Regions from separate parts of the Homo sapiens genome. Here all the other regions are reported to be linked to region 3. The links are microRNA targets in miRTarBase. Many come from high-throughput screens and were not tested one by one. Region 3 holds a microRNA gene; each other region holds the end of a gene's coding sequence.

Region 1 (7,118 bases), not on the chromosome of region 3:
CCTGGGCTCAACTAATCCTCCTGCCTTGGCCTGCCAAAGCGTGGGGGTTGCAGGCATGAGCCACAGCACCCAGCTAGAGTTCACTGTTTAATGTGATGAATCTGAGGTGCCTATGGGATGTAATTCAAGTGGAGAGGTCCAGTTGGCAGTTGGAAAGATACGCTGAAGCCTAAGAGAGAGGTCTGGCCTGGAGACATGAATGTGGATGTTGGTGCAGAGATGGTTCCTGAAGCCATGGGCGTGGATGACATTACCCTGAGAGGGTAAAGAGAGAAAGGAGGGTCTATCACCAAGTCCCAAGGAACCTCAATATTTAAGAGATAGGCCCAGGAAGCAGAGTCTGCAAAGAAGATTGAGAAGGCACAACCAGAGAAGCAAGAGAATCAGGAAACAGATGTCATGAATGCCAAGGGAGAAGAGAACTTCATGAACAAGGGAGTGAAATGCTGCAGAGGTCCCATTATTTAAGCCCCAAAGAGGCTTTCATTAACCTCAGAGCATGTGGTTTTCAGGGGATGGAGGACAGGAAGCCAGATGCAGGGAGTCAAGCAAGAAGCTGATTGTGAACAAATGAAGACAGCCAGTGCTGACTCCACTAGATCCTGGACATCTGCAAAGGATGTGTTTCAAGGCTTTTCAGTTTCTCCAAATTCTCAAATAGCATTAATTTTCCCCAGGACTTCCTCCTACAATCTCACAGGATTCCCAGTACACATGAGTTACACAGTTGTGAATGGAGGTAACCAAGGCATTGTTGAAAATGGATGCGAGAGGTCAGCTAGGCTCATTTGCTTGCTAAAATAACTCACGTCTACTCACTAGCTTCCAGGTTTATCTGATCATTTGAGACCTCAAAAAAATGACAAATGACTGCAGGTTACAGTCTTTGGGCTTTCTCTGAAACAAATGAAGCCTTGGATGAGGCAAAGTCCTTAAAGCCAATGAATCCTTTAAATAAGATTAGCAGGGAAGGAAAGCAATGAAATTCATGGCCATCTCCCCCAACATTGCCAGACTGAGTAAAGTGAATGAACCATTCAATCAAACTTCTCTGGGCACACTGTGGGCCAGGTCCTTCAGCTGTGAAATAGAGACACAAAGCTGAATCAGACACACTCCCTGTCTTTCACAAGTTTTTAGACTAATGTGAGAAACAGAAATGGAAACACGTAACTACAATGTGATAAGTACCATGATATTGACATGTTCAAATTGCTACAGCAGCAAACTGGAGGAAGTACCTAACTCTGAGGATGGTACAGAATAAAGAAGGCTTCCAGAGGAAGGGGTATTTGAGCTGGGTCTTGAGAGACAAATAGGACATTGATACGTACATTGGGAAAACAGTGAGTAAAGAAACAGAAACATGAGAAACTAAGAAATATGGAACAGATGGACAAGATTGCAAATCTCCAAAAGGCAGAGGTTATACATGATGCTTTTACATCCTAAAAGCATAAAAATAAATATGCTAAAAATAAATAAATCTAAATAAATAAATAAATAAAAGGCACCACCACTCACCCACCCACACAAGCGAGAACCCTGGTAGTCTTCTCAATTACACCTTTTCTTTCACCTTTCAGATACAAGCTATGACTACATCCTCAATTCTGCCTCTGAAATTTGGCTAGGTTTAAAAAGTTAGGAGATCTAGGATCTAGTCCTAATGCTGTAACTAACTCCACTAACACAAGGTGAAACTCTAGGTAAGTTCCAACCCCATTCCCTTATTTGTAAATTGGGAGAAGAGGGATGTTTTCTCAAAATCTGAGATTCCCAAGGTTCCCTCTCAAGCCAAGGGCTTCCACAGATTGTACCATGAGCCCATGATTAAATCCCATCTTGTACTACCTCGATGATTTGACTTCTAGTTTCCACTGTTAGGCTAAATGTGTTAGAGGATGGTCTTAGTTGCCTCCCCTCCACACTCCCCCTGCCCCCTCGCCCCCGTAAATAAATGTTTGCTGAGTTTTAAGTCACCTGTGACACTCTATGAACGCTCTCTATTCTAACCATATGGTTTTTCTGCTTTTCTGAACCTGGGCTATACTATCCCAACGATGGACTCTTTGCTCAAGTTCTCTCGGCAAGAATGCCATTGTCTCCTAAGTGGCTGTGGCAGTACCTGGCACACAGGAAGTACTCAGTATATGTTGGTTACAGGAGAGCTCTGTTTAAATCTCTGCAGTTCCCTTTCATCAGAGAGAGATGCAAAAGTAATGGCAGTAACAAGACAAGTGAATAAAGTCCCAAGAAGAGAGACCTCTGCTTAATATAAGGAAGCTTTTCCACAGCAGAAAGTAGCAAGTGCTCTGTCACTGGAGGCATACAAGCCCAAGGAGGCAGGGCTACTGTCAGGCCTGCAGCTCTGATTCCAATTCTGCAGCAAATCATCCCCTGCTTAGGGGATGAATGGGCACCAGTGAGCTAGACAGACTGGCCAAGGGAGACCTGTGATGTTTTCTGCACCTGCTGTGACCTCCCAGATGTGATCTTCCTGCTAGGGCCAGTCCTGAGTTTCTGTTGTCCACATCAGAGAACCCCCACACCAAGAACAAGCCCAGGGCCTGCCCTCAGTCGAACTGACCTCCCTGGGGTGCAGCCTGCCCCTCCAACCTGCAACCATCTGTCCCTGCAGGTTTGCAGCCCAGGATCTGAAGCCAATTGCAGAAGGGAGGAGGTCAGAACCAGGGAGGGGCCTGGGGTCCTCCAGGCAGGGCTCAGGCTACAGGAGAACCAGAGGGGTCCTTTCCTACAAAAAAACAGCCTCCACATGAGGCTTTCTGTCCACAGAGCAGTGCATGGGGAGGAAAGGGTGTCCTCCATCCTGACTGGTGGGCCTGTGGGTACCAGAGGATGGAAGGGGCGGGGGGTGGGGTAGGGTGGGGGTGGGGGAGCAAGGGGTGGAGGTGTCTGCACCAGGGAGAAAAGAGCCCTTCAGACAAGATGGGCCACAATATTCCAGAGTCCCACTCAGCACGCACCACCACCACCACCCTCGGCCGCAGCGTTCAGCACCCTCCGCCAACACACACAAGCTCCCAAACCCCGCGCTCCCCTAAGGAACCATCACCCATCCACCCGCGCCTCCCCGCCTCAAAACAGGGACCTCACGTGAGCAGCCACAGCCCGAAGAATCCCCCTGCTGCTCTCACGGACATGGACACGCCTCACGTGGGCAGAGAGAGGCACAGCTTTTGAAAATCATCTGTGCCCCCACCCACAGACGCTCCGACCCAGACCCGGGCTGACAGGAATACAAACGCACCCTTGGGGCCCGCCCGTCGCACTCACCGCGTTGGAACAGGATGCGAGGGCAAAGCTCGGACTGCGGCCACTCTGAAGGGCCCGCGGCGCTGCTACTGCTGCCAGCGCCCGTCCGCCCGGCCCTGCCCGCGCCTCCGCCTGTCCCCGCGCCGGCGCCGCCGCCGGACTAGCCGCACAGGCCGGAGGGAGGGGCCGGGGCGGGGCTGCGGACCGGCCGGGGGAGGGGGTGACTCCAGTAGGGAAGACCCACCCACGCCCCGCCCGCCGCCGCGGAGGCCCCGCCCACCCCGCCTGCCCACCCCTACCGCACCCGCACGCCCCCCCGCCAACGCCTCCACCTCCTGCGGACGCTGCCTCCTTGGTGCTGCTAGGGAGCCGGCGGGCCGGCGAGCCGGATCCCGGATCTCGGATCCCGGATCTCCGCCAGCTGCCTCCGGCTCCGGGAAGGGCGGTGTAGTCGGTCTCAGGGATTGAGATGAGACTCCGTCAAGAAAAGGCAGCTGGGGCAGCAGGGATTTCGGACTCTGGGAGCCTGTCTGGGCCGCCTGCCTCCTGGAGGCGCCCTTTCCGGCTTCCTTGGAGTGCTCCTATGGAATATGCTAGTCTATCGGCTGACCAGGAAGACGTAGAAACCGTCTGTACCTCAGCACGATCTCTGGGCGGCAGAAGGGCAGTACCCAGAACTCTGGGAGAAGGAGTTAAGGGGTAGAAAGGTGGGGGATTTGATTAGGCTTTGGGCGCTTCAGGAGCCCCCTCCTGAGGAAATTCTGGTTCAGACCATCCAGCGACTCCCTTCCTCACACCAAAGACACTGGACAATTCTCAGAATCATCGCCTTGTGCAAAAAGCAGCCCCAAGTGGAAAATAATTGTAACAGTTTACAGGGACTGAGTGGTTATTATGTGCCGACACAGAACTAGCCACTTTACATATATTATTTAATAGTCAGTAGGTAGCATCTTTTATTAGCCCAATTTTACAATGGGAAAAAATAGGGATCTTGCTCCCCAGACGTTAGCCCTCATCACTCAGCTAGAAAGTGGCAGAACCTGGAGTTGAGCCCTGTTTTTAGGCCCTACAACCAGCATTTGGAGACTCGGTACCTTTCATGTTGAAAAATCCCCAGTGGCCCATTAAGTGGCAGCTCATATAAGGACCACCTTCCCTGCCCCAAAAATCAAGCTCTAGTCAGATGATTGCAGGCTGATCAAAGCCCAGAAGACTGTCTGGGAGCTGCAGTATCCATGACAAAGGGCAAAGTCATGCCTGTGAGGATCCCTGCACTATGGGAATCTGCTGAGTGGGTCTTCCCCTTCCTCCAGCCTTCCAGAGGTGGGGAAAATCCTGAAAAATTCTGGTTTCCTTGGCCAAAGGGCATACAGGTGATGACACCTAGCCCTGACTAAACCAAAGTGCTGTTAGGGATCTTTCTTGTGACCTCTCCACAAGGTTCAGATTTAGGCTCAACACCTGGGTGCAGCAGGAGCTTTGGGAACCGCCTCAACCTCTTATCCACCTGAGTTCAGCACATAGCACAAGATGCTCCAGTGCTTGTGAAGGAAACCCAGACGGGGATCATGCTTGCAGTTTTGGGCTGGGGCTACTATGCTACCCAAGATGAGGGAACTGGAGTCTAGATGACACTATCTTAAGCCTCAGAGGACTACTTTTCTCAACTCTATACTTCTCCCATGCAGTCAAATTTCTGCTTAAAACACTTCTCAGCTCCTTCTCCAGAGGGCAAAAGTCCTTAACCAGCCTGCAGTCTTCATCTAGCCACTCCCTCTTCATTTTTCATTCCAAGCAATTCCTCCCAGTTCCTACTCAGAGCCTTCATTATATGCTAGCCTCTCTGCCTGGGATGCTCTTCCCTTTACCCTGCCTGTTTGTCATCTACTCACCCTTCAGGTCTCAGCTTTTTTTTTTTTTTTTTTGAGATGGAGTCCCGCTCTGTTGCCCAGGCTGGAGTGCAGTGGCGCAATCTTGGCTCCACTGCAAGCTCCGCCTCCCGGGTTCACACCATTCTCCTGCCTCAGCCTCCCGAGTAGCTGGGACTACAGGACTACAGGCGCCAGCCACCGTGCCGGGCTAATTTTCTTGCATTTTTAGTAGAGATGGGTTTTCACCGTGTTAGCCAGGATGGTCTTGATCTCCTGACCTGGTGATCCGCCCGCCTCGGCCTCCCAAAGTGCTGGGATTACAGGAGTGAGCCACCGCACCTGGCCAGGTCTCAGCTTTCAAACTGACATCCCCATTTCCACCCCAGTCCATGCCAGATGCCCCTCCTTTGTGCTCCCACAGCGCCCTCTGTACTTCTGTATCCTAATACTTATCACTGTTTTGTAGTTGCCTGGTTACTTCTTTCCCTCAGTAGGCCCTAAGCACTGTGGGCAGGGACCGTGTTTTATTCACTGATGTTTCCCCAGGGCCTAACGCAGTCCCTGGCAAATGAAAGCACTCAGTAAATATTTGCTGTATGAATGAATGCATGATGAAGGTCAGCAAACCCAACCCCCTCTGGATCTGGTGCTCTTAAGATCCATAGCTATCTTGGTGCTGGCTAAAGGACAAAGCTTTGGCTCCAACTGAGGCTGGGAGAGAAGACTGGGCCTTCAAACCATCTCTGAAACCTGTGACTTCAGCTGCCTGGCCCCAGCTCTTTTGACTTGATAGGGTTCTGGTGTTTGATTAGACTGAGCTTGTCTCCACCCAGGCCACCCTCCTAGAGTCCCCGACAAATTGACCTCGCTGGGCCTGCTTTTATGAAAGGTTTATTCCTAGTGCTAGATCCCAATCTTCTTGGGCTCTAAGCACAATTAAACTGGGTGGGTGGGTGAGGGTAGGCCTATTCAGATGCAAGGCCAGCAATGGGGCTCCCCATTATCCCCACCCCTTTGGTCCCAGTCCCCTTCTCTGCAATGGGCACGCATAGAGGAGAGACAAAGGGTATTAGACGCAACATCATTGGCCCAGGGGAGTCCGAGAAGAGCTGCCATTGGCTGACAGGGCATTTTCAGGCTCTGTCATTGGTCAGGGAGCACACCCCAGCCTGAAGAGTGATGCCATTGGCCAGGGAGTGGTTTTGTCATAGCCGTTGGCTGTGAAGTGGAAGGAAAAGATCTGGGAATGAAGCCCTGTGGCCAGGAAGATAGACAGGGCAGCAACTTCTGGGCCTCCAGGCCCTCTTCCCACCATAGCAATGTGGGCAAAACTGGTGTCAGGCCCCAGCCAGAAAAAGGAGCCCAAGCCAGAGGGCAAGTGACAAAGGATGTACCATGTCCAATCTCCCACACCCTGGGGCTGCCCTTCCCAATGTCTTTCTTGATAGCCAAGTTGGGCTGGGAGCAGCTCACTGCTCCTCTAGCCAGGAGGGTTTCTCAGCTCCTGGAGGCCGCAGCTTGATGTTGAACTGCTGCAGGGTCTGCTCCAGCTGTTTCTGGTTCCCAGCAAAGTAGGCGGACACAGCATTGTGGAAGAGCAGCAGCTGCTTGTGCATCACCTTGATCTGGGGGTCCAGCAGGGTCAGCTAAGGCTGGACTCAGGCGCCCTTCTTGAGGGTCTATGAGCCTGAGCCCAGGCACAGACCAGGGGCACAAGGACTCTGCTCTGATGGTGCTTTTGGGGTAGGGGCTGAACTCTACCCAGGGAGTCAAAGGAGAAGGGTCAGTATGATGGAAGAAACCTCACTGGATTTGTGGGCCTAGGGTTTTTGTACCCCAGCTCAGGGGGTGATTTTTCCCAGTTATGTTCCTGGGACCAGCAGCCAAATCCTCCAACAGGAAAGGGCCAGGAATTGGAGGGAGGGTGATCTGGAAAGGCCCAGGGGTTGAGGGGGTGAACACTCTACT
Region 2 (7,118 bases), not on the chromosome of region 3:
GTCTTGCTCTGTTGCCCAGGCTGGAGTGCAGTGGTGCAGTCATAGTTCACTGCAGTTGCAAACTCCCGGGTTCAAGCCATCCTCCCACCCCAGCCTCCTGAGTAGTTAGGACTACAGGTGCATATCACAAAGCCTGGCTATAATTTTTAAATTTTTTATAGAGATGGGGTCTCTCTGTGTTGCCCAGGTTGGTCTGAAACTCCTGGCCTCAAGTGATCCTCCCACCTCTGCCTCCCAAAGTGCTGGGATTACAGGTGTGCGTCACTGCACCCAGCCTGACTGTCCCCTTTCTGTTTGAAACAGTGTTGAGAACCACCCTTGCTTTAGGTGCCCGACTCTTTTCAGCCCCATGGCGTGGTTGGAGGCCTGCCCTAGGCGGGTGTGGGGAGAGGGCTGCTCGGTGGAGAATCCCACTAAAAGCGCAGACCCAGGCCTGGGGTGGGGTTTTCTGTCTTGCAGATGAAGGACTCGCTCATCAACCTTCAGAACGGCATCAGGTCCCGCGACTACACGTCGGAAAGTGAAGAAAAGAGGAATCGCTATCATTGACAAGGCAGGAACAGGGTGGCTGCAAGAGGCCTGTGCAATACATGTACATAGACCATATAAATATATATATATAAATATATATATATACAGAATATAAATATATATATTATATACAGATTTTAAAAAAGAGATAATGCCTATGTACCAGGGAGAAGGAGCGGGCCCTCCCGCGCCCTGTGCTGGCCGGAGCAGCGTTTTCTTATGGTGGAGCAGCTGAGGAGGGCAGGAACCGCCTCTCAGCACCGACCTCCCCTGATCTCCCTCCTCCCACCCTCTGTTCCCCACCCCTTCCCTTGCTGGCCATTCTTGGCTTTTAGAAGGGAAATGTTGAGCCAAAGTTATGCCTGCGAAGACCCTAAGGTCTCAAAAAGAAGTCTTAAGACGGCATTGCTTAAGGTGCTTCATTCCCTAATCCCCTTTTGATTTGTTTCCAAAATAAAAGAGAATCTTTTCTTCCCTACCCCAGGCTTCCCCAGGCATTCTCTTGGGAACACAGAAGCATCAAGGGAGCCCAGTCTAAACTCCTAGGGTTGGCCGCCCACTTGATCCAGACCGTACTGAGTGTCAGATGGAGAGGATGCTTGGAAAGCTAGGAAGGCTGCATTGTGTGGTGGCAGGCTCCCGAGACTCGTGTTCTGAAGGATACTCTCCTCCATCACCCCTGCACCTTCCTCCGACCTGTGTAGGGTGTGGACCCAGTAAGGGCTGGGAATTTCTTACTTTCCCACCCGCTTTCTCTCTGGTCTTCTCCCAGGCTGGATCTGGGCGAAGTGTCACTTTTTAGTGCCTAAAGTCCTATTGTTTCTCTGTGCCCTAAGAGCACATTGTTTATTAGCCAGGGTGGAGCGTTTTCGACCTTATTAAACCTCTTTTAGTGCTTCTAAGCAAGTCAGGTCTGTGGCTCTGAGGCCTTCACTTAGAGCTGTCAGTGTGATTTCCAGGATGAGTCAGGGTGTGCTGGGCCCTCCAGGATTTGAGAGAGGGAGAGAAGGCCCTTGCCACGTCCGGGGTGCAGGGTCTACCCACAGAACACTGTGAGTGGTGAGCACCAAGATGGGTTGCCAGCCTCATTTGCTCTTTGAACGAACCAACATTAGCCAGTGGAGACGACTGTCTGAGACAGTTTGCACATAGAAAAAGCATCTGAGCCACTGGAGGGAAGGATTTGGCAAAGGTGCATGTGTTTGGGCAGGAAAAGGCCAAGTGAAATCTATGCCCTACGGGAGCCATTCCCAATCCTGAGTTTCTCAGACTTGGCAATGGGGGTTCTGGCGGGGGTTGGAGTACAAATCCTGCTCTGGTCTCTGGCCCCACAGAGGTGTAAGATCATTAAGAAGTAGAAGGCACTAGCTTCAAAGAGTGAGACATTCAGGGCCTTTTCAGCATTGGCCCACTAGCACCATGCATTTATCTGAATTCACGGGGCCCTCTGGGCACATTCATCATCCCTCATACACTAACTACTGTTTCTTCATGTAATGACCAAAAGAGTCCCACCAGCTCCAGGCAGAGCTTGTGGAGATTCATGAAAGAGTCATAGCCAGTTTGGCATGCAGAGGTCTTCAGTCTTGCTTATTCTTCTCCTGGGCTTCTTGACACAGGGGCAGAAGAAACCCCAGATGTCCCAGATGTCCCAGAACATCAGCCCAAAAGACAGAAGATTTTATCACTCATCTACCCCAAAGATAAAGTTGTATTTTTTTCTTAGAATGGCCTTTAATTCCCTGTGGCAATTACAGTTTTTGACTTTTCCATGTGAGAATAAGGCCTTGGTATTTCCCTAAGGGCAGGATCAGAAAACAGGAAGGTCCATGCCCAGGTGATCCTCCAAGGGAGGAGGGTGAGGAGGCTCCAGGGCATGAGCTAGAGTGGATATTCCTCCCCTAGAAGAGGAGATGGGAGGAAATGCAGTTTCATGTAATCCCTGTGAAGAGTGCCTATGCCCACAGCCCAGTGGGTCCTTGTTCAGTTCTTGTCCAGGCCTTTGGGTGAGGGACACTGGTAGGGATCAAGGCTCATGGGCTCTGAGCCAAAGAAGGAGGCATGGTGCAGACTGCTGGAAATCTCCCCCTTGGCACAGCCAGAAGCCAAAACTATTCCCAGAAAGTTTTGAATGCAAAACTTGTAGATTCCTGAATTTATTCCATACATAATTATTTCCTTAAGTTATTTAATTATTAAAGGTGCCACGGTGGGACCTTTGGGATGACTTAAAAAGGGTTCTTTGTTGGGAGTCAAGTGACAGAGCAGACCTGGCCGCAGGGAGTTGTTCTGCTTCTGCTTTACCTCTCAGGACCATTCCCAGGAGGAAAAGGTGGCAGAGAGGGCAGTACTGAGTATGTCAGAAGAGCCCTCCTGGTTTTTTAGCGATTTGAACCCACTAGACAATGTGTGCACATAGGGAATGTCCTTTAAGAATCATGGATCTCTTGTAGGCTCTCTGTGTTCCAATAATTTTTTGACTATCATACCAGGAAAAAACCAACAACTCTATTCATTCCCAAACAAAATCTCTTCCCCCTTAGTCAATAGCTTGCGAAAGACATCTTAACTCACCCTTGCAGATAAGTCTTGGAGTGAAACAAATAAATAGCATTGTATTCCTGGCCATTTGCCTGGCTAGTTGCTGTCTACAAGGGAGCATCAAAACATCACTACTTCTTATGTAACTTCTTCCAGCCAGTGCTTTTATTGTTCGTTTTAGTTTACTGGGGACACACAGGAGTCTTTCTGTAATGACTTATGTGGTAAAATGTTTGAGAGTTTGCACTCAATTTTAAAGAATTTGCAGTTTCTAACAAGGTGAAGAACAGCTATAGGATCTAAAGTTCCATTACAGCTTACTGTGAAAGAATTGACAAGACTGGCCTCAGACAAGCTAATCATGGTGCGACTCTCTCCCTTCCTCATCCACCTCTTTGGGGACAAGAGGATTACATCTCAGGCCAGCAAGATCAGCTGCTTGAAGCTCTGTGTAAGAGCACTGCACTGACGGTTTGGAGACCTGAGCCTGGGTCCTGACTTTTCCATTGACTAAGCTCTGTGGCCTTGGGCAAGTCACTCCCCCTCTCTGAGCTTCAGTATCCTCCTGTCACAGGAGGGAGTTGGGCTAGATCATCTTTAAGGTAGGTTCTAGCTTTGACATCATCTTGGGGGTTAGGCCAGAGGCTGGGAAGACTGGGTGGACTTTCTCAATTGCTCTGCCAGGAGGGAACAAGCCCAGAGGCTGAAGCTTCCCAGTATTTAGAGGTGTGGTAGGGCAGTGTCTGCATTCCCAGGAGACCCAGGGTGATTAAAATTTATTCTTTAGGTGGCTAGGAGGGCTGGGGAGGCCCAGTGGAAGAGAGAGAGAGAGAGAGAGAGAGAGAGAGAGAGAGAGAGAGAGATCGAGCTTGATGTATTGCTCAGTATTCACTTAGAAGGGTTTCTTTCTCTTTGGCCTAGTTTGTGAAGGGATCTTCCTTTGGACTTTCTCTAAGTTGGGAGAAGAACATTCTTTTCAATGGAGCTCATCTTCTATCTCTAGGGTCTGTTCAGCCTTTCATCTATCCATCCTTCCTCTTTATTGGTAGAAGAAACAGTGGAGAGTAGCCACTTCTGGTTCTAGCACTTCTCTTTTGTTAAGATAGGGTTTGGATTTAGTATGAAGCTTTGGCTAAAACCCTTGGGTTTGCCTTAGAACACTGACACTAAGAACCTGGAATGACATGGGGAGGACAAAGAGAGCTCAAGAGGAATGCTTTGTGAGAAGTGGATTCTCTCCGTGTCCCTGCCCCCCACCCAAACTTGAACTATACCTATTACATTTCCAGGCAGTATCCCTAAGATGAGATCCTGGAGAAAGGACTAGGGGAAGTATCTTTCTGGATGCTTGTGGTCCCAGAAGGGTACTTTCTGTGTCATACCATGCCACTTCTTTAAGCTCTTCAGGGCAGCCAAAGCCAGCCCTTTTCTCCTACTGCCCCCAGGAGAAATAGCACTCTTCTCCCTTCCCCCAGATGGCAGGGCTCTGGCCTCCCTACACCTCATACCCTGCCTGCCTCCTCCAGGAGGAATCTCCGGGGCCCCTTCCTGACTCTCCCCACCTTCGCCACTTGTCTCTAGGCTATGGGACAATCATCCCATTCACCACTTGACATCCTTGACATCCTTGACTTTCATTCCCCCAACCTCCAGCAGGTTGGCCCCAATCCTCTTCACCTCTGTGTTTTCTTCTAGAAGATGCATTTTGGGTCTGAGAGGAGCATTTTCCTGGAAGGCCATCTTTTAAGGCCCCTGCTTGCTGTCATAGTGCAGAGCAGAAACTTGCACACTATTTAGAGAGCTCCCTTCCCACCTCTCTGCCCAGCCTTGTTACCTCACTTCTGCTCTGGCCATGGCTGTGAAGGGCCCAGCCAGCTCCCTGTTTTGATGTTCTGTGCAACAGCTCCGGGGTCTTGTGACTGGAGATCCTCAACAGGCCCTGGAGCCAGGACTGGAGTCTTGGCAGCTGATGAGCAGCACCTTGCCGGCCAGGAGGAGCTGATGCTGACGATCTCCCCAACATCTGAAGGCTTAAAGAACATTGTCGTTCTTCAGCCCTCCTTGCTTCTCTCAATACAATAAGACATTGCAGAAGCAAAAGGGTGGCCTCTGCTCCAGGCAAGGCAGCTGGCTCTGTCTGGGGCATCGGCCTGGGGCTTGGGTGCCACGTGCTGAGATTGCATAGTCAAAACAGCCATTTTTGCCAACAATAGCTTGTGGCTCCCCACATTTTCCTACCCTGCACTCAAGGGCCAGACCACTCTCTGCATGGACCAGACCATCTTCCCAAACCCATGGTGCTTTTTCCCCAACTCAACCTAGACTCCAAGGTGGGGAGGGATGGGTCAGAGGCCATAGTGGCCCCTGGATAATCCTGACGTGGGGTGGAGTGGGGTGAGGCAGAGGGAGCAGCCCCAACACCTGCACTGGGCCATCTATGGGAAAGAACACGGGTCGAGTGCAGTCGAGTTGTCTGGCCATCTGTATTTGGATCTATAACTGTACTTTGCCTGGCGCTGTGCGCAAGGTCAGAAAACTTACTGCTAGTACCTAGAAACACACAAGGCTGCCCAGCCAAATCTTAATGTAAAGTAGCTAGAGCCATGGAAGTACAGTATGAATTAAAAAGAAAAAAGTATTGAACTACAATAATAAATGGTGTGCGTGTTTATTGCTTGATCTATGAATGCTCGTCACCTCAGATGTTTCTGGTCTTCCCAAGTAGGCTCACAGCAAGTCCTGAAGGCATGTGTTTGTAGGCACGCTTATAGACACACACGCACACACACACGCACACACGCAGCCATCCACCTTCTCACGGGAGGGAGGGAGGCCGCCTGATCAACTGGAATGGATAAATTTTGGAGTCAGACCTGAGTACAAAGTATAGCATCACTGTTTACCAACTGTGTGGCCTTATGCCCCATCTGTCACTCCAAGCCTCAGTGTTTCAGAGATAATACATTTAAAACACACATCGTTCTTGGTATGGCTGCTGGTATTATACTAAAATATTTTCTTTTGTTTTGAGATTCACTGTCACCCAGGCTGGAGGTAGTGGTGCATTCATGGCCCACTGCGGCCTTGACCTCCTGAGCTCAAGTGTTCCTCCCACCTCAGCCTCCTGAGCAGTTGGGGCTACAGGCACACACCACCATGCTAGGCTATATATTTTTTTTAGAGATGGGGTCTCACTATGTTGCTCAGGCTTGTCTCAGACTCTTGGCCCCAAGTGATCCTCCTGCCTCAGCTTACCAAAGCGTTGGGATGATTTTTAACCTTTTTTTTTCTTTGAGATGGAGTTTCACTCTTGTTGCCCAGGCTGGAGTGCAATGGCATGATCTCAGCTCACTGCAACCTCCGCCTTCCAGGTTCAAGCAACTCTCCTGCCTCAGCCTCCTGAGTAGCTGGGACTACAGGTGCCTGCCACCATGCCCGGCTAATTTTTGTATTTTTAGTAGAGATGGGGTTTCATCATGTTGGCCAGGCTGGTCTTGAACTCCTGACCTCAGGTGATCCACCTGCCTCGGCCTCCCAAAGTGCTGGGATTATAGGTGTGAGCCACCGCACCCGGCCGATTTTTAATCTTATGATGAGTAGTACTGTTGTTGCAGGAGATTGTGGTGGACTGTGAATCCCGATGATGGTTTCTTATAGAACTTTTCCCTCTTCGGGCCTTAACACTTCCAGGAAGATGAATGTTGAGAGACTGCTCCATGTTCTTCTTTTATGTTACCTAAACTGGTGGAGCTGAGAGCCAGATTGGCTCCTCCCTTCATTAGGTCAGCCTTGCAGGGAGCTCCTCGATGCCTGGTAAGGAAACTTGTTTGATGTCAGGCAAGAACATAAGTGACTCTTGTATTCCTTTGTATTGGGGTAGAGGAGGAAAGGGAAGCGGAGAGGCTAGATCACACATTTAGTGTGTGTTTAATGTAAGGCTATTACATGGTTTTCATTCTCATGCATATCCACAGATTGGGTATGGGAATTTGAAGCAGGCTGGGGTGCTGGGGGAAGCCATAGTCTATGGTGCAGACACACTTAGT
Region 3 (7,118 bases):
TCTGGAAGCACAGGGAGCTGTCACGGCCTTCTTGGCCAGAGTTAGAGAGGCAGGACTTGTGCTTACCTGACCACCGAAGGACTCTTTCTTGGCCGAGCTCTGAGGTTGAGGAGGGCCCTGAGCAGGCGACAACCTTGAGGGGCTCTTCTTACTCTGAGGCAGCAGCGAGGACAGGAAGCCCACACGAGGTGACTGGGAGAGGGAGGCATTCCTTTGGCTGCACACCATGGCACTGGTCAGCAAACACACCACAGGGTCAGAGGGCTGAAACAGGATGTGGAAAAACCAAGAACATAGACCTCCCGGGCTATGGATGACGTTAAGTGACCAGGCCTGGGTCAGGTCCAAGAGCCTGGGCTTTAAGGTGGTATTATCCTTGGCATCATTTTTTTGCACAAAGGGAGCCAGCAGCTTATCTGTTACAAGGGTGAAGTCTGCGGCTCTTCTTTGAGGGTCACAGTAAACTCAGAGCTGTCTTGTCCAATAGCCACTGGTCACGTGTGCTACTGAGCAAATGAAATGTGGTTAGTCCAAATCAAGATGTGCTAGAGATGTAAAATTGACACTGGAATTCAAAGACTTGGCATGAAAAGAATAAAATAGCTCATTAACATTTTGTTTATATCCATTACATATTGAAATGATGTTTTGAATATACTAGGCCAAATAAAATATATCATTAAAATTAACTTCATCTTGTTTTTTTTTTAACATAGCTACTAAAAAAATTAAATTACGTATTTGGCTCGCATTTTATTTCCATCAGAAAGAACTGGCACCACCACTAGAGCTATTTCATCTGGTGCAATACTTGGCTATGTGGAGGTCTGGAATCCGGCTGCCTGGGTTTGCATCGTGACTCACCAATCACTGTCTTCCTCACCTGTGTGTACCTCTGTTTCTTCAACCACTACTATTATTATCACCAGCTGGGGCTTCTGCTTTAACTGGCTGTTTCTGAAGGTCAAATACCTCTCTCTAATCTGCCTTCCTCTTTAAACCGTCAGAGAGGTGCATGCTTCTACTGAGGAATGCATCCAACCTGTGGTTACCAATCTTTCCATACATGAGATGCTCCTTCCAATGCACAAAACCTTCCCAAGACTTTACCACAGTGGTTGCGTTTTTATTTATCCTGACTACACATATCTGGATGTAGAGCTGGCAGAGCTGTGCAGTTCCCCACCTCTAGGCAGAGCCACAGGCTCGGAGGCTCAGAACTCCTAGAGGACTTCTGAGGCCATGGGGACCTTACTCATAAAGCTCTGAAGCAAGGCTGGACACGGTGGCTCACGCCTGTAATCCCAGCACTTTGGGAGGCCAAGGCAGGTGGATCACTTGATGTCAGGAGTTGGGACTAGCCTGGCCAATACGATGAAATCCCATCTCTACTAAAAATACAAAAAAAATTAGCCAGGCATGGTGGCATGCACTTGTAATCCCAGCTACTTGGGAGGCTGAGGCAGGAGAGTCTCTTGAACCCAGGAGGCAGAAGTTGCTTTGAGCCAAGATTGTGCCACGGCACTCTAGCCTGGGCGACAGAGCGAGACTCCATCTCTAAAAATAAAAATAAAGCTCTCAAGCAAGAGCAGTGTGTGCCAGGAGGCTCTTCCGCAATTCTCCTTCAGCAGGCACAGAGGACTGCAGGCAAGGCAAGATCAGAGGGAACTGTGGGGCTGAGAGCACAGAGGGCAAAGAAAAGGAAAGGGCCGTCACACACACTCACAGTTCCGAGTCCCCCAGGCGGTCCATGTTGGAGACATAAGGAGGCAATTTGTGTTGGACCAAGGCCTCTTCCTCTTCTGGCTGTTGCTCCTCTTTCTTCAGTCGGTGGATTTCAGCTTGCAATGCAAAAAGCTATACAGGGGTGGGACTGAGTTAGCCAATGATCTCACCTAACCTTCCCTCTGCGGAGGAAGATTTCTAGACACATCGCATCCAAGCCCACTGGTCTGAGTGCCACTCGCCTCAGCGTCAAGGGGCCCATCTCACTCTGCTCACTGCAGACTGGGAAAAGTGACTGCTGTCACTGGACAACAATGAGGTGAGAAAACCAAAAACCATTAGAAATCCAAAACCCATTTTCTTTTTAATCATTTGACTTGCTTCCTCCTAGATTCACTGAGAAAAATAGCTCCACCCAACCTGTTTTGCTTTTTAGAATCTACAAAATCAGGCTTTAGAACTCTCAAAGCCTGACTCTGGAATGGAAAAAAAAAAAAAACCTGTTAATGAACTACAGCGTTTTTAACCTTTTGCCTGAAGAAAATTACATATACACACACCCCAAATCCCAAGAATCTTAAACCCCATAACCTAAACAGCCTATAATCTTCCTTTTCCTAACAATATCACCTAAGGAGATCTTAATTTCAGGAAAGAGAAATGTTCCTCAGGCAACATGTACAGGCAAATGTGGGTCCCCTGGCTCTATTGTTTTATCAAACTAGAGAAGCATATAGCTGAGTAGGAACAACTAAATTATATATGGGTTATAAACTATATATATGTGTGTGTGTGTATATATAGTTTATATATATACATATAGTTTACATATATATGTGTATATATATATACACACATATATAGCTATACGTGGAAAGACAAAACAGACACATGAAAACAGGTTAGTTATAAGGTGGCATGGATGCATATAGTCTTTTTCTCCTTAAAAGTTAATTACTGTTACTATATTGTTCATGCTACATATCTGACTTAAAATATGAATCTCGCCTCTGGTTTTCAGAGACTGTTACTCTCCAAATCCCCAATACTGACTTTCTGGTGACTCATTTCCATCTGAGAAATTAGGTAGTGGCAGTGGAAACCTGATTAATATAGTGTTCCACTGCCACTACCTAATTTCACACACAAAAAGCAGAAGTACTTCCTCAGGAGCAAGCCTGTTCAGAACAAACCTTCTGACGCAGAACTTCATTTTCTTCTTGAACCTGGTTAGTCCTCTGACACTCCGCATCAAAGTTCAGGATCACAGGGACTGGTGCACGAAGTTAAAGAATAAGCCAGCCCCTGAAATGTTTAAACGTCCTTCCCAAACCCTTGACACACCAGTAAAACACATGAGACACAGGGACACAGAGAACAGAGTATAGGAGCGGTGCTGTGGGCTCTTGCGGGCTTAATGAAATAGTCGCTCCCTACAGTCTTGTCTCTAAGACTTTCTCTAGGTCTGGCCTCATTTCATTCGGACAGATTCACAGACGCATGACCATCTGCCTGGCCAGCCCACAGAGGGGACATAAATCCAAACCTAAGCATTTTCTCTCAAATACCAGAAGCAAAGAGCTAGCATCCAGTGGACTTCACAGCCAGTCTGAGCTTTAGTGAGGTCACTACATTCAGCTAAAAGCAGCCCTGGAGGCCAGTGGCTCTGCAGTAATACAGCCAATGAGGCAGAAAAGACCAGTCAGTTGGCTTCGCCTCCCCAGGTTGAGCCTCTCCCTGGCAAAGGTTTGGACTGAGAAGAGAAAGCTTTCTGCAGATTGCGTGGCCACCCCAAGAACAACGACAGTCTATAGCTTGGGATACTGGTCCTTCTCCACTGCCTCAGGCAGCTTCAGTTAGGAGGAGCACAGAGCAGACAGGGCCTCAGAACTGGAGAGGGGACTAGAGCCCATATGTGTGTAAGCTAGTTTGAGAAGCACTGAAAAGATCTTGAGTGACAGTTTCGATTTCACTGGAGGGCCCACAAAGTTAACTGGAGAGCCCTCAGGATGAAGAGAGGGAACAACGGGGAAGAAACAAGGCAGTTCTGGCAAGGGTGGAATTCACACTCATCTGGGGCACAGAAAGGGTGAAGGCAGGAAAGGTGCCCTTCCCACCTCCACCAGAAAGTGTTCCTCCCAGAGGCCAAAACGCCTGCCCATGGGTGGGCCTCTAAACACCCAAGTTTATCAGTGCCTCACCAGCCAGCCCCATTCAAGCCAGACTCCCTTCTCCTCCTCTAAATTTCCAGCCTAGGGAGCATGAACAATGGCCTTGGGAGCTCTGGCTTGTACACTTGGTAGGCTGTAAATTATTTACCTGCATTCTCATTCATTCCCCCTCTCCAATACCCGCATATATATTCTTAAAGCTACTGTGTTCTCTGGCAACTTGAGGAACACTGAAGTTACTATTAGAGACAATAACCCAAACACTAACACAGACAGAAGTTCCAACCCAAGAAGTCTTCTCATCTGTACCTAATCCCAGCAAAGGTATATCCCCGGGAACACGTTTCATGCACAGAGAGGGTACTCTCAAGGCTGCCCGGTTTCTCCAAGCAGCAGCTGCCTTCCAACCCCAGTGCCTGCTGACAAAGCCAGTACTAGCACCCCACTGCTGCCACTGTCACTGCCCACACGTCAGCTAATACTTCAGCAGCACAGTGTCAGAACTAAGATTTATGATTCCCTGGCTTACTGACAAAAACAACCACAATTTGTCCAGCCCCCTCATGTGACCCATAAAAATGGTCCCTGGGCATTTTTGTAGAAGAAATGCCTGTATGGAGACCAGCGGGCTACTGATCCTGAGGTCTGGGTGCCTCAGGCTGGGCCTTCAGCCCCAGGCAACTGAAAGGATATGCATGCACTGAAACAGGACGCTCAGGAAGTTGTGCAGGGACACAATGAAGGTGTCAGCCCACTGTCGAGAAAAGTAGGTAGCAAAGGTGGGGTTGGTGTCCGGGGATGGCAGGAAGGGCAGGACAAACCAATCCTTCCACTCAGCCTGGTTCTGGAGTTCCGTGGCCTGCTTTGCAAAGAACTCCTGAGCCTTGTCATTTCTGTTTGTCTGCCAAGACACAAGGAGGTAGCAAGGAGGGAGGAGAGACAGAAATCCAGAGGTAAGACTCTTCATCATTGCACAGCAGACAACCTTTGACTATCAGCCTGCCAGGTAAGTGGCAAAATAAAATTCCATAATATAAAGGAAATCATCACTCTTTTCTCAAGGAACTTGTCATTTCAAAGCTGGTTTAAGCTGAAGTTCTAATGATAAATCCCATCCTAAAAATTAATCCCTAGCTGATGTTCAAATAACTAAGTGACTCATTCCTCCAGGTCAGCTATCATCTTTATTACTCAAACTTTAACCCAGCTACTTATATTCTTTAAAATACCACCTTTGTTTTAAGCTTACATGCTTAACATAAAAAAGGAAATAGGAATGGGGAAGACAAGTCAGATGATCTACAGATGACGACAAGGAAAAAAAAGAAGAAAAACAGTCAAAAATAATTGCACTGTAACTGCTGCACTCTTTCCCATAGTCACATACAGATTCCTCCCTAGGAACTGGAAGAAAATCTATTTTGGGATCAAAGAGCTCCTTCCACCAAGGGAAGCAGAACCCCTGAATCAACAGGCACCTGGATTGTGTAGACAAGATAAAATCGAAACAGGCTGGTTTTCAGCTTGTGGATTGTGGGTCTGTATATATCCTCCAAGCGGCTGAAGAGCCGACGCTCCAAGTAGCTCCAATAATCCCGAAGGGCAGCCAAGTCATACACCTGCATTAACTGCTGCAGCTGGTCCACAATCTTATCCACCTGGCGAGAAACATGGATGGAGAAGGTGGTAAGGGACAGAAGGGAATTCTCCCCTCCATGGAATAAAGCTTTTTCCTCTTGTCATGGCTTCTGGGTGTAAAAAAAAATTTGTAAGTTAGCAATCTATAAAATTTTCAAAACATACTAATGCAACGGTTTTTCAGTAATTTTCTGATGTTAGAGAAGTGGTTTGACCCTCTAGCAAGCACGGAAATTTCAGGTGTAAAAGGGCTCTGGCCCAGAACCTAAGAGATCTGGCTCCAGATCTTGGATCTGCCTCTGACTTACTTGATCAATTTGGCAGTGTCATCAGGCCAGGCACCGTGGCTCACGCCTGTAATCCCAGCATTTTGGGAGGCTGAGGTGGATGGATCACCTGAGGTCAGGAGTTCGAGACCAGCCTTGCCAACATGGTGAAACCCCGACTCTACTAAAAATACAAAAATTAGCTGGACGTGGTGGCACGCGCCTGTAATCCCAGCTACTCGGGAGGCTGAGGCAGGAGAATCGCTTGAACCCAGAAGGCAGAGGTTGCAGTGAGCTGAGATCGTGCCACTGCACTCCAGCCTAAGCGACAGAGTGAGACTTTCTGTCAAAAAAGAAAAAAAAATGGCAGTGTTGCTTAACTGTAGTTTCAGTTACCTCACATTTTTAAAAAAGGGGGTGGGGTGAAGAAGAGCTATGAGACAATCTCCACAATTCCCAGATCCCAAGGATCATGAGGAGGTGCATGGACTGACTCCTTCAAGTCATCAAAGTTCCACGAAGCCGTGGTAGCTGCTCAGAGTGTCAGCCAAGGAAGTCACCTTCTTGTGAGGAGCAATTACAGCAGAGTACAGAATCTGGAAAAGGGTTTGGATATCAATACCAATCCAATGCCCCTAGTTTATAGATCAGGCCACTGAAGCCCAGAGGGGTGAAATGATTTGCTTTTGCCACTAAGTAGCCACTAACTTTGGCCAGGCAGGAAACCAGATCTCCTAACTCCCCTCCAGTGCTCTTGCTGTTAGCTCACTGCCTCTCATTGAAGTCAGTACACACAAACATACAAATCACACACATATACATTCCAAGAACCTCGCAATGGAAAATCATTTTAGAGCAGGGGAAGTTTGGGTTTCTCTAATGTGCCATGAGGTCTTCCACAACTGCAGAAGCAAAATTGCCGATGAGTCCCTGACGAGGCCATTTTAAACAAACACCGCAGATACTTGAACGCAGCTAACGTTTTGGACTGCAGACTTCTTTGCTTCCACTGCCACTGGAAGCCAACACGAATATCTGTTGCCAAAACGCAACCATCTACCTAACCTCGGCTCCTAAAACCTCATCGCCATCCTGGCCAAGGAGGCTGGAGTGGAGACAGAACCCTAGACCAGGAGCCGGGGCATCGGGGCTCCAGCCTCGGCGATGCTCCTGACTCGGGGGGCGGCTTCAGGCAGGTCCTGTCCGTCTGAGGGTCTCAGTTCCTCATCCGTCAAGCTGGGGTCGGACGCGCTGAGGTCTCCGGCGCCCCGGCGCGAGTGACAGCGCCGCTCTCGCCCCGGAGGCAGTGCTGGGGGGA
Region 4 (7,118 bases), not on the chromosome of region 3:
CTCCTAAAAATATGCCATGTTAAATGTATCATGTTGTGAACATATTAATAGATGTATCTCCATAAATGCAGCTTTTCAGATGTTGCTGAACATCTTTATGAAAAATCCTTTGGAAATGAGTAATGCGGACATTTTAGGTGTATTTCCATTTGATTTTAATGCCTGACTTACAGCTATCATGATGATAAACTTTCTCAGAGTGTCACAGTATTTAATATAAGCTGATATGGAAGAAGCTATTTTTTCAGATGACTTTTCAGTGCATTGAAAGATGGTTCTCAAAGCAGTCCCAATACAGCTCACAGTAGATCTCTGTCAACCCAGTGTTCTTCCAACTTACAGCAAGCCCTAGCTTAACTGGCCATTACAAGGATGTAAATATGTGGATGGAAGGAGAATGTGCTTAAAAAACAGAAATCTCCAGAAGGCCTTTTCTTCATTGCAGTCAGGAACATTGCACATGTAAAATTCATGTTAACCATCATCTATTGGAACGACTGGAAAGTGATAACCTGCCAATTGTGCTTCCTTTCTTCACACCACTGAACCAATGAACTTTGGATCTAATGTTATCCAACTGAGGAACCAAGTGCTTAAACTGTCATTTTCCAAAAGAATCAGAACCAATCTTGAATGATATTTTTCTTCTGTTATGTCACCTGTTTACAAACAAAATAATACAGACCATTAAAAAAAAGACCCTTTAAAGATACAGTGTATTTACGTTCCCTCAAAAAGTGTAAAAAAGACATTTTTTACAAAAGGCCATGACTGTATTCTTAAAGCAGTAAAAATGAAAACAAAATAATCTAAATACAGATTTTGATCACTTTTAAAAGACTATTAGATTTTCATTTTTATTATTTTTACTCTAACACTGTATGAAAACTATATACTAAAAAGGTAAATTCAGTCTAAACTATTTGCCCCATAAACTGCTACTAGAGTAAGAACAACTAAATGGTGTCTTCAAAATGCAGTAGAAACTGTTTTTGTTAGACTAACATTTAGAGGACAGGATTAATACCAATCTTTAAATGGATACTTCACCCGGGCATTTTATTGAAAAGTGTTGTGCTTAAGATCTATGGGGCGTACCCAAAGCACAGGAGCATTTATATAAAAGACATACTCTTCAGATAAAAGCTGACAGGAACATGAATAAAGTACCAACTTAATACAGTTCTGCATTTTCTAATACTGTAGCTACATGTGGCTAATGAGCACTTGATATGTGTCTAGTGTGACTGATCTAGTTTGATTTAAATCCAGTTTGATTTAAAAATCTAAAACAGTAAGTACTATTTTTCCATTAAATACAATTTTGCTGTTTTGGTAGGACATTTCTCATTAAGTATCAGATCCTTAGCATTCAAACTGAGATGTGCTACTAGTATATATAAAACATACACTGAATTTTGAAGACTTAGTGTGAAAAAAAGAAATAGAAAGCAATGTCCTTAGTTTTTAATGTTGATTATGTGTTGAAGGATACTACTTTGGCTACATTGTGTCAAATAAAATATTACAAACATCAGTTTCACATGTTCCTTTTCATTTTTGATGTGACTATTGGACATTTTAAAATTACATGTCTCAAACTATATTTCCTTTGAACTACATTGCTATAGTTACTTTAGAAGACTCCTACAGGGGCCTAGCACAGTGGCTCACGCCTGTAATCCCAGCACTTTGGGAGGCTGAGGAGGGTGGATCAGTTGAGGTCAGGAGTTCGAGACCAGTCTGGCCAACATGGTGAAACCCCTCTCTACTAAAACTTCAAAAAAATTAGCTGGGCATGGTGGTGCGCCTGTAATCCCAGATTGAACCCGGGAGATGGAGATTGCAGCGAGCCAAATACGGCGCCACTGCACTCCAGCCTGGCTGACACAGTGAGACTCCATCTCAAAAAAAAAAAAAAGACTCTCACAGGAAACAAACTAGAAGCTTATTTATTTATTGAGACAGATTTCCTCCTGCCTCAGCCTCCCAAGTAGCTGGGACTACAGGTGTGAGCCACCACGCCCAGCTACTTTTTGTATTTTTAGTGGAGATGTGTTTCGTCATGTTGCCCAGGCTAGTCTTGAATTCCTGGGCTCAAGTGATCCACCCACCCCCAGCCTCCTGAAGTACTGCAGAATTACAGGCCTGAAACTTAAAGTTCACACTCAGCCTGAAACTTATTTTAAACCTCTATGTAATTACATACATTTTAAGAAATTTCCTTGAGCATGACTATGGCTATCTCTGGAAAGAGAAGAGTTTCAGAGGGGAACGAACAAGGCAGAACAAGGGACCTTCATTACCTACTTTATGAATATTCAAGAAATTAGCTCTTAAAAGTATATAAGTACATTAATGACAAAATCTATAATCAAGAAATCTGGCCAGGCACAGTGGCTCACACCTGTAATCCCAGCACTTAGGGAGGCAGAAGCAGGTGGATCACCTGAGATCAGGAGTTTGAGACCAGCCTGGCCAACATGGTGAAACCCCATCTCTACAAAAATACAAAAATTAGCTGGGAGTGGTAACACACGCCTATAATCCCAGCTACTCCGGAGGCTGAGGCAGGAGAATCTCTTGAATCACGAGGCACAGGTTGCAGTGAGTCAAGATCACACCACTGCACTCCAGCTTGGGCAACAAGAGTGAAACTCAGTCTTGAAGAAAAGAAAAAAAGAGAGAGAGAAAAAAAAAAGGAATCTAATAAATTAATGGGAAATACAAATTGCGGTAAAGCCTTCTTAGCCATTTGTAGATAAAAAGTTCACAGCCTTTTAGTCTCCATGATCACAAAGTAGTGATACACAGCTACTTCATCACTGCCTAATCAGTCCATACTAGTCTATGGTTTGCTTCTGGGTTAGCACACATTTAGTAAAGGGAGACTGCAAACTTCCAAGCTCATATATTTTCTAAGTGTTTCACTGTTTCTCTCTCAACATTGTACCACATATTCCAGCCATCAGCCGTCTCCCACACCCCCGAAAAAAGTTTTAAGCAATTTTCAAAGTGTATACACCATGCACCATGTTAACATCTGATACTAAGGCTAAATTAGTAGCCAGAAGCTATGAGTAACATCCCAGCCACTTGAGTATACAAAATGCTGATGCAATGTCTAGGGTTAGGCAGGATATGGTGGGATGGGAGGAGACAGACAAGGATAGGCTGACTTGAGCAGCTGCTGGTGTGCTGTGAATGGGCCACTGTGGACCATCTGTAATGAAAGAGCTAAACACACATTTATGTGAAGGTCCAGCTGTGGAATTAGTCAGTGCAAAGATGGTAGTTTTAGGCACAAGCTTAAGCAGCTTCCTGAGAAGCTACAGCAGAAGGAAACAACACATGGTAGTAAGAACTGTAAAGTGGGAGACAACCTACAAATATCCACTATGGAAAAGATTCCCAGTTAGACATACCTGAGAGTCTAGACATTCACAAACTGATATGCATCCCTCTCTCTCTCTCTCTCTCTCTCTCTCTCTCTCTCTCTCTCTATATATATATATATATATATTCCTTTACAAAGCATAGTGGACATATGTACAAGCAAAAATAACTCGAAGTTACTTTGGGATCCAAAAACATAAGTCATACAAAGTGACTGTTACATGTAACTGTATACATAATAGGAAAAAAAGCAGGATAATGCTACTACTGAATGTTGGCTGAATCATGGTGAATGTAATATTACCCTTTTTAAGTTATTGATTGATGCAGATGCTGGTGGAGAGGTACTACAGGAATATTTACCTAATGAACCCATACCCAAAGGAACAGGTGAAACTGCTTTCAGTAATATTTTACCTAATGTAACTAATAGAATCTTTCAATATGTAATCAGTTGTTTAAAAACTGACATACATTACATTTTTATATTATGTCTTCAAAATCTAGATGTGTACTTGCATATACATTAGATCTACTCAGAATTCTTTTTTTTGGGCCAGGCATGGTGGCTCACACCTGTAATCCCAGCACTTTGGGAGGCTGAGGTGGGTAGATCATTTGAGGTCAGGAGTTCGAGACCAGCCTGGCCAAGATGGTGAAACCCTATCTCTACTAAAAATACAAAAAAAAAAAAGAAAAAAGAGCCGGGCATCATGGCAGTCGCCTGTAATCCCAGCTACTCAGGAGGCTGAGGCACGAGATTCACTTGAACCCACGAGGTGGAGCTTGCAGCGAGCCGAGATCATGTCACTGCACTCCACCCTGGGTGAGAGAGTGAAACCCTGTCAAAAAAAGATTTTTTTTCTTTGTTGTTCTACTCAGAATTCTTAAGTCAAGGACAGAATGTCCATTTTTAATAAGCTCCCCAAGTTAATTCTTATGATCAAACATGTTTTAAGAATTATTATGCTAATCGGGGCAACCATAAGGAGACCCTGTCTCTACAAAGAAATTAAAAAATTAGCCCGGCATGGTGGCATGTGTCTGGAGTCCCAGCTACTTGGGATGCTTGATCCCAGAAGGTTGAGGCTGCAGTGAGCCATGAACGTGCCACTGCACTCCAGCCTGAGCAACAGAGGGAGACTCTGTCTCTAAAATAAAAAAAGAAATTCAACAAAAATAATTCACAGGGCTAACACATGAATTAATTATTCCTTTACTTATTCCCTTCTAGGACTCAAGTCTTCCCTACTTTGGTGAATGTTTGAAGCCTAGAGAAACATATTCCATCAAGAAAGAATAATAATTAATAGAACATGTTTGTATACTCTATAAATTTTATACAAATTACAACATTTCAGTTACCATCATTATAAATTTGATATACTGTTTAATTTATACCATGTTATCTTTAATGTTTCTATATATTTGGTGTAATCTGTGCCATATTACTCTATAATTAGTATATTAAAATGTAGTAGACTATAGCTCTCTATTATATTAGGAGAATGCTACATGTGTAACCAAAGAGAATCTTAATATGTATAGGAGTATTCATTAGATATGTAGATAATTTTTATATATTAATGATACCTGCAAATTTGTCTAGATAATACAGTAACTGTGACAATAAGTAGTTTTTTTTAAGGGTTTAGAAAGTTAAATAATCAGACAATGCAACAATTTTTCCAGAATGATCTTAGAAAACTCCTTTGAGGTCAGCTAACATGACATCAAAATTCAGTGTGCATAACAGTTTGTTACTGAAATACTTTGTCAGAAAAGGCTTTGCATTAAAAAAAAAATTGACGTATTGATTTCTTTTTACAGACGGGGTATTGCTATATTGCCCAGGCCGGATTTGAACGCCTGGGCTCAAGAGATCCTCATGCCTCAACCTCTGAGTAACTGGGACTACAGAAGCGAACCACTGAACCTGGAAAGCCTTTTTTTTTTTTTTTTTTTTTTTTAAGACTGAGTCTCACTCTGTTGCCCAGGGCAGTGGCACGATCTCAGCTCACTGCAACCTCCGCCTCCTGGGTTCAAGTGATTCTCTTGCCTCAGCCTCTCGAGTAGCTGGGATTACAGATGCCCGCCACCACGCCCGGCTAATTTTTATATTTTTAGTAGAGAAGAGGTTTCACCATGTTGGCCAGGCTAGTCTTGAACTCCTGACCTCAAGTGATCTGCCTGCTTCAGCCTCCCAAAGTGCTAGAACTACAGGTGTGAGCCACTGTGCCAGGCCCTTTTCTGTTTTTTTAGGGCAAGAATGAGACTGTCACTTTACTTGCAATTACAGCTGTATAGCAGAAATTTTTAATGAGGAGGACATTTTTAAAAATAGTATTTACATAGCAATAATCATTAAAAAGTTATCTTAAGTTTCTAGAAACTACAGAATTAAGTAAAACCTGAAGTTCATAAATTTGTGATCCATGCTAAAATTGGGTTATAAAACAAACGATATGCCTCAGGCTCAATAAAAAATACCCCAAACCTCATCATCCGATATAAAACCTGTATTACTGAATGCTACTAAAGACAATAAGGCCGTTTACTTGTTAGTTCTCCCAGTCTGTGCAAGGTAAAGCCTCCTCTTCGTCCTCTGACTCTGGGGATGCTTCTTTAATTCTTCTAAGAGCTTCATGGATGCTCCGTGTTAGAGGGTCTGTATCGGGTAGAAGTGTGAAGGATTCTCTCAAAACATCCTTCTGTACCTTCTTCAATTTTACCCCTTTCCTTATTTGTGCCAAGATATTATTACTATCATCTTCATCAGGAAAAGGAGGCAGAGTTCGCTGTTCAACCTTTTTCAGATGAAAACTACCACGCTTCAAGGAGGCTAGCACCTCATCCATGGGTGAGCTCACTTTGGAAAATGAAACAGAACAGTATTACAGTTAGGACTGCACTTAATTAGAATGAAACTGTATAACCTCTACCGTTCGCAACTGTGAAAGCACAGGACGCTGAAACACCATCTTCAAAATGGATCATGAAATGTGTGCAGAAGGTGATCAGAACACAAGGGATCCTAATTATCCTTCTTTTTAGAAAATCCCAAGACCCAATCCATGGTGGGTACTGTTGGTATTCCTATCATTTCCTACATGAGAGAAGTGACCAGATTGGGAACTGGGAGGTGGTCTTAGTAGTATTATGGGTGTGATTCCCAAAGGATTTCCATATTGCAGTTGCTCCACCCAAATTCAGAGTGATGGGGTTACACATTTTGTTTTTAAAAATTAATTTTTGTTTATTATGGAGACTGTGCTTTTTTCATTTAGTTGTTTTACATGTGAAATCCTACTCAGATTACATCAAGAAATGTTTTATAGAATGGTCCTTCAGGTTAAAATGTAATATACAAGTAATATGTAACATTTATATAATGTTCTCCCCATGCAAAATGCAAATTCCTTAAAGGCAAAAGGCAAGGGTTATTCTCTGCTCTTTTTAGAAATAATTTTATTTGTGCTTGAATCTCTCTTAACAAAAAAAATTAGAAAAAAAAATAGTAACCTTATTGAGGCACATCTGTCACATTGTAAGTTGAACAGATTACTCCCTGTTCTTCTTTGCTTCTTTATACAAATACACAAAAGTCCTCAACAAATGTATGAACAAATGTTACATGATCCTGCCAATGTCTTCCCTGTGGTGACAGTCCTTACCAGATATCTTACCCTTTCTGATATGAGTATTTTTTTAAAAATCTCAGG

What was found. The annotated mature microRNA hsa-miR-6509-3p reads UUCCACUGCCACUACCUAAUUU and lies in region 3 at 2,805-2,826, opposite strand. An mRNA with a match to its seed (bases 2 to 7 or 8) in the 3' UTR can be bound and repressed. Matches are read on the target gene's strand: a 7mer-m8 pairs with bases 2 to 8, a 7mer-A1 pairs with bases 2 to 7 and ends in A, and an 8mer does both.
Region 1: miRTarBase lists ARFIP2 as a target of hsa-miR-6509-3p. The part of its 3' UTR that is shown has no 7-base or 8-base seed match.
Region 2: miRTarBase lists GRAMD1B as a target of hsa-miR-6509-3p. Seed matches in the 3' UTR shown: 7mer-m8 at 1,648-1,654, 8mer at 3,884-3,891 and 7mer-m8 at 4,128-4,134.
Region 4: miRTarBase lists JMY as a target of hsa-miR-6509-3p. The part of its 3' UTR that is shown has no 7-base or 8-base seed match.

The regions. Positions count from the first base shown.
Region 1 is chr11:6,470,494-6,477,611 of GRCh38, forward strand. ARFIP2 (ARF interacting protein 2) reads right to left here. Exons shown (of 8, transcript NM_001376558.2): 8 at 6,026-6,775. The coding sequence ends at 6,620. TRIM3 (tripartite motif containing 3) reads right to left here and starts at 3,448. Exons shown (of 12, transcript NM_033278.4): 1 at 3,298-3,448. RefSeq lists enhancers at 2,109-3,048, 3,049-3,987 and a silencer at 3,345-3,574.
Region 2 is chr11:123,622,047-123,629,164 of GRCh38, forward strand. GRAMD1B (GRAM domain containing 1B) reads left to right here. Exons shown (of 20, transcript NM_001387025.1): 20 at 460-5,721. The coding sequence ends at 549. Among named protein-coding and RNA genes, the nearest start is that of SCN3B, 29 kb to the right of the region's middle.
Region 3 is chr7:135,204,202-135,211,319 of GRCh38, forward strand. It overlaps MIR6509 (microRNA 6509), which reads right to left and starts at 2,877; the gene lies at 2,793-2,877. WDR91 (WD repeat domain 91) reads right to left here. Exons shown (of 15, transcript NM_014149.4): 2 at 5,375-5,554; 3 at 4,590-4,797; 4 at 2,919-3,001; 5 at 1,727-1,857; 6 at 67-232. RefSeq lists silencers at 2,709-2,868, 7,028-7,118 and an enhancer at 4,658-5,857.
Region 4 is chr5:79,315,147-79,322,264 of GRCh38, reverse strand. It overlaps JMY (junction mediating and regulatory protein, p53 cofactor), which reads right to left. Exons shown (of 11, transcript NM_152405.5): 10 at 5,955-6,265; 11 at 1-659. The coding sequence ends at 5,958. LOC102724530 (a long non-coding RNA gene) reads left to right here. Exons shown (of 3, transcript XR_001742756.1): 3 at 4,631-5,256. Among named protein-coding and RNA genes, the nearest start is that of JMY, 83 kb to the right of the region's middle.